2 separate regions of the Homo sapiens genome follow, and region 2 is linked to region 1. Evidence: fine-mapped expression QTL. A gene starts in region 1. The other region holds a variant in brackets. All regions are shown on one strand. Distances are from middle to middle. Region 1 holds the start of KPNA1 (karyopherin subunit alpha 1). Region 2 overlaps KPNA1 (karyopherin subunit alpha 1).

Region 1 (2,912 bases):
GGAAGAAAAAGGAAGCCACCAGAGGTTAGCCTGATATTTGCCATCATTTTTCCAAAGCTAAGGTGATTGCTGACTCTGAAAGCAGTGGCTGAAACAGGGAGAAGAGCTTATGGCTGTCTCATGGGGCTTAGAAGGCCCACCAAAGAGAAGAGGCCCTAGTAAATACCCCAGACTTTTGGATGGGACCATCAAGGACTAGCTAGGAATAAGGGTGAACCGGAAATAAATTAGCTTTCCCAAAGACTGAAGACCGGCTCTGAATAATCAGTCTTAGTTCCTTATTGGAATAAGGTGATCTGTCTTCAGTCTAGCTGTGGTCAGGCAAACTTGCCCTTAAGTCTCTCCTGTTGAACACACCTTCCCTTTCCCCAGCCCCCTTGCTCAAACTCAACTCTGATCTTAGTAAACACAACATCAGCGGGAGAATGCTGATGCAGCAGAGAGAAGTCCAGGACAAATGAACATTGCATAACCTAGGATTCAGGTAGAGTGGTCCTCTCTCCTCTCCTCTTCCCTGGGACATTTATAAATGTATTAATCTACCTCATCTCTTTCACCTTGCTTCTTGGCATGTGTTTTAAATCTGTCTACTATTCCGTGATCCCTGCTAGGCTGGCTTCAGTTTTTCTTCTTTTGAAGCCACTACTCCATTTGCTCCCCCAAAGAATTCCATGAAATTTAACATTAGCAATCATTTGCTCCAAGTTTTCGTTTGAGAGCAGTTGAGAGTAAAACGAGTATGTGTTTCATGTAGTTTCATTATTATTATTATTATTATTGTTATTATTATTTTTGAGGCAGGGTCTCACTCCGGTTGCCCAGGCTGGAGTGTAGTGGCGCGATCTCGGCTCACTGCAGTCTCACCGTCAACCCCGGGCTCAGGTGATTCTCCCACCTCAGCCTCCCGAGTAGCTGGGACTTCAGGCGCCCGTCACCACCCCCTGCTAATTTTTGTGTTTTTAGTAGAGACGGGGTTTCGCCATGTTGCCCAGGCTAGTCTCAAAACTCCTAGCCTCAAGTGATCCACCCACCTCGGCCTCCCAAGGTGCTGGGATTACAGGTGTGAGCCACCGCGCCCGGCCCTTAATTATTTTTGATACTACGCATACGTTATCAAGCAAAGGGGATGGGAGATAACTAAAAAAGGAATGTCCAGAAGCTTCCTGCATTCATGCTGCATGTGAGCCCTTTAGACACGAGGCGCTGACCTACTAATTTTGTAATACTCCCTCAGCCTTCAATCATTCCATCATTCATTCCATCAACGCGTATTAGGTACTTAGAAGCTATACAGAGGTGAGCATCGATCCGCCCTGGAAGAGCTTAGCAAAGACAGGTTTGTACATATAACTTTCTCCAACCTTTGCCATGGTCTGCAAACCTCCTTCTTAGCGAGACCCCCTCCCCGACCCCCGACTCTTCACAGGCTGGGCGCTAACCATTAGGAATGTCCGGCGAGAGAGCGTTACAAGACTACGTCTCCCGGCAGCCTCTGCGACAAGCGCCGGAGGGGCGCGCGTAGGCGCTCGGGCCGGCCCCCGCACGCAGGCGCACTGCGAACGCCGGCTGAGCTGAGTCTCGCTGCTCGGTGCGAGGCGGCGGAGAGCGAGGCCTGGTGAGCACCGCCGAGGCGCGGGCCAGCTCTTCGAGGTTGTGCGCGGGAGTGGCACGGCGGGCGGGCGAGCGAGGGGCTAACTTCAGCGGTGGCACCGGGATCGGTTGCCTTGAGCCTGGTGAGTGCTGGGGCCTTGCGGCCCCGGCCCCTCCCCCTCCCGCCGGCAGATCCGGGCAGTCCCGGAGGGACTCAGGAGAGGCCCTGGGGCGAGGGCGGGTGCCGGCAGGGCCTAGAGCCGGGGTTCCTGGGCCGGACGCTCGCGCCGCGTCCGTGCGTCACGGGCCCGGCTGTCCTAACGGCCACAAGGCCGGCGGAGGAGAGGGTGGGGGTGGGGAGCCCTGGTGTGATCGCCATCGGGAACGCCGGTCGAGGCTAGGCGGGGCGGGGCGGCGTGGCGCGGCGGCGGGGCTGTAAGCGGCGCCGGGGACTGCGGGGCGCCGAGGCAGCGGGCGGAGAGGAGGCGAGCGCGGAGCCTGCGCCGCGGCCGGGCGGCGGGCGGGAGGCGGGGGTGGGCCGCGCAGAGCGCTGTGACAGAGGCAGGAAGGAGCAGGGGTGGCGTGTAAAAATTCTAACCCTGGCAAAAAGGGACCGTCTTGGGAATTCACAAGTTACAGACCGGGTCGGAGCCGGCGGCCCGGAGGGAGGTGGGGGAAGCGGGGGGTGGAGACGGCCGGCTGCAGTTTACCGATGTCATAACAACATGGGCCTGGAGCGGCTGATCGGGGGTGTGGTAATTATAGCAATGACAGAACTTGGTCTGCACGCCGCGTGTGCGATGCGAGGGAAGCAGCGAGGTATCGGATTAAGCTCAAAACGGGAGGAGGAAACAAGGATGACTGGAGTCAAGGAAGTCGTCATGAAGTAATGTTTTAGGATTGGGTCGTGTTCCACTTTTAAATGAAAGCGTTCAAAATATTTGATTTTTAAGGTTTCAACTCAGAACAAACGATTGCCGAGTTTTTGTTTGTATTTTAAAGAGATGGGGTCTCGCTATATTGCCCAGGCTGTACTCCAACTCCTGAGCTCAAACTGTCCTCTTGCCTCAGCTTCCCAAGTAGCTGGGACTAGTCTTGGGCAACCACACCCAGCTCTGCAGAGTATTTTTTTTTCTGAAACGTACTGTCAAGTAATATTAACTTGAATTTCACCCTTTTTTCTTAAATAAACGGTTGCTTAAAAATCTCTATTAGTAGATGAAGTGATTTCCCCCCTCCTGTTTTGTTTTTTTTTTTCTTAAGAGATGGAGTCTTGCTTTGTTTCCCGGGCTGATCTGGAACTCCTGGCCTCAAGGCATCCT
Region 2 (2,912 bases), 55 kb after region 1:
CCTGACAACTACATTGCAAGCTGCTTTCATAGCTTTGTTAACATGTAGGCCTTCGTTATACTCTTTATTATTATTATAATTTTTAATCATTTAAAATGTTTATGATTGTGGATAATACTTCTCTAATAGGGAAATGTTTACAGCAGAGGAGCCATTACAGCCAGGAACTTATGTGTGGGCTACATAAAATTTGGTGTTGAGGGAGTTTTAGATGATACTTGGTGGCTTTCTCAGGATGGTGTAACATGGGCTAGATCAGAGTCTTATTAATTCCCAAATCTGTTCCTAATTAATTCTTCCTCCACCCCACAAAAAGCCGATAAGGAGATAACTTTGTCAGGAATCTGTGTACTTATTGCTGTGTCAATTTAGGCTTTCAGTACTGTACTATATAAGGGATTCCAAGAGGAAATTTTGTAATCTCTGGATTCAGAATTTTCTTTTTTTTTTTTTTCTTCTTTTTCTTGAGACAGAGTCTTGCTCTGTCGCCCATGCTGGAGTGCAGTGGCAAGATCTCAGCTCACTGCAAATTCCATCTCCCAGATTCAAGTGATTCTCCTGCCTCAGCCTCCCATGAAGCTGGGATTACAGGCAGCCACCACCATATCCAGCTAATTCTTTTATTTTTAGTAGAGATGAGGTTTTGCCATGTTGGCCAGGCTGGTCTCAAACTCCTGACCTCAAGTGATCCACCTGCTTGGCCTCCCAAAGTGCTGGGATTACAGGTGTGAGCCACTGCTCCCAGCCAAGTATTCAATAATTTTCATAAGAAAAGAAACCAACAGTCAGCTGACTCTCATCCTAGAAATTCTAAACTACTATTTTTTTTCCCCCTGGATAAAGTTGGGTTTTTAGAAACTGATGATTTTTTAGTAAACTTCCCTGGAGTAACCAACTGAGTCAGTGCCTTTATTAGTTACAAATACATGTGATCCCTAAATTCTCACCTGTAGGATCTAATCTCAAAGGCTTGGGCCCTGAGACTATGCAGCTATAAAAATTGGTTAGGTACCAAGTTGATCACAAAATGGGATTATCTTTCTAAGTAAATATTTGCCAAAAACTAGTTAATCAAAGATATCCCCCACCCCTTGTGTGCTGTTCTTTACTCTAAGGCTGGAGCCATGTAGACACTGGGGCATTTTTGTTAAGTGATAGCTCCTGTCCCCAGGTTCCTTACTGTCTACACCATTATAGATTATTCATACAACTTGATGATTTGCCTTGATGTTTTCTCTCCTTTCCTCCTATCCCTTCTTTCTCTTTGTTTTACACTCTTTGTTGCGGTGATGAGTTCCTTCCAGAGGAAAAACAAGAAATCCAGAAAAGGTAGAGTACTTCAATGT[C/T]ACATCAGTTTTTCTTCTCCAGTTTGACACTTACCAGTTCCCATGCTCATTTGAATTAAGGTTCTGTTTTGCTAGCTGCCTCCTGGATTGTAATTCTGGTCCCCATCTAAGGCCAGGATCATCAGACACCTGAAAAATAATCACGTTCACCCTGAGAGCAAGGGAAGAGAGACTTTTCTCAGGATAAAAGGAAATCCAGACAACCAACACTGCAGAGAACAGAGCCTGATCCCCTAAGCAACCTGCCGAGAACCAGAGGGACCAAATGAGGAACCTTACTGCAGTTTATCATTTGAAATGCTTTGTAGGAAGAGGGAGGTAGGGAAAATTATTTTGTTCATGCTGAAAAAAGTGTTTCTTTCCTGTCTCTGGGAATGAGAGTAGATGAGAGATACTGAATTTACTCCTTGATCTGGCGGTTTTTATTAGGTGGTAGTTCTTTTATGCATTAAATATAGATGGTATATAACCTTTCAGATCTAAAATGAAAAAAGTCGGAGAAATGGATCTTTCCCCATCTCTGCATTCCCTTGTACTCCTTAAAAAGTACAAGTACATTCTCCGACAGTGCCCTCTTCTGGCTAAGACATTCTACATCTTTTTTTAATTCATTACTCTGTAATCTTGGAACTTGTATTTTAACACATCTGAAGATGAAAGCCTTCAGAAATCTCTAATTTGCTTCTATGTAAACTCCCAGATTCCACCCTTGTGCAAACTAATAATTAGGCTGAAATATTGCAAAATGATTCCTCCGGAAGTGATAACCTCATGATTTTATGAGGATAGTCTTAGCTGTCCTAACTCTGAGAAATAACCAACTGTTTGTTATCTAAGGGCCATCTCTAGCTTTTTTATGTGCACATTTAAGGACACCATGGTGTTCTCCCTCCACTGTGACTAGTGGGGACCTTTGACCACCTCAGAAGCAAGGGGGCAAATATATCGAGAGAGACCTTAAAGCCAGGAGACTTGATGATCTACCATGCTTTCAAATAATTAGACATGCTCTGGGAAGCTTGGAGGTTACTCCTTCCTCTGCCTTCTTGGAGAGCAGACAGATGTAAGCTATCCCTGATACTCTTACCTGCTTACTAGAACTTGAATAATGCACCTTTGGAATAGGGCTTTTGTCATTTCTCTTCCAGAAGGAGAGTCATGCTATGTGGTGCCAAGAGGAAATTTGATGGCTCAGCTCACTAATAAATCTTGTGGACAAACTTAATTTCTTCATTCCATAGATAAAGAACTGTGAATCCTATTGAAGGGTCTTTTTATGTTCTTTCTGGCTTCCCAAGTCAGTAAGGTACCTCAAACCAGGGAGATAAAAGTGCCTGCTTTGAGCATTGCTACCCAGGTGCTGAAGGTGAACATGGGTGGAATCTAGGATTTTGGAAGCAGACAATGGCTTTTAGCTAAGCGCATTCTCAAGCTCAGTGACATCTAGGTCTCAGATAGACTTGAGCCCTTGTCATGAGACTGGTCTGGTTTATGGCATGGTCTGTGAGCCTACTTTTTTGCTTCTTTGAGTCCAGGCCCAGTATCTTTGTGCTGTCCTTTGCAATG

Evidence for each region. PIP is the estimated chance that this variant, and not a neighbour inherited with it, causes the effect.
Region 2: its variant is fine-mapped to the expression of KPNA1 in whole blood (TOPMed, PIP above 0.99).

The regions. Positions count from the first base shown.
Region 1 is chr3:122,513,578-122,516,489 of GRCh38, reverse strand. KPNA1 (karyopherin subunit alpha 1) reads left to right here and starts at 1,551. Exons shown (of 14, transcript NM_002264.4): 1 at 1,551-1,733. It overlaps LOC107984000 (a long non-coding RNA gene), which reads right to left and starts at 1,461. Exons shown (of 2, transcript XR_924403.3): 1 at 1,362-1,461. RefSeq lists a silencer at 1,584-2,273.
Region 2 is chr3:122,458,191-122,461,102 of GRCh38, reverse strand. All of the region lies in intron 5 of KPNA1 (karyopherin subunit alpha 1), which reads left to right. Among named protein-coding and RNA genes, the nearest start is that of WDR5B-DT, 43 kb to the right of the region's middle. The variant C/T (reference allele first, on the strand shown) is at 1,347.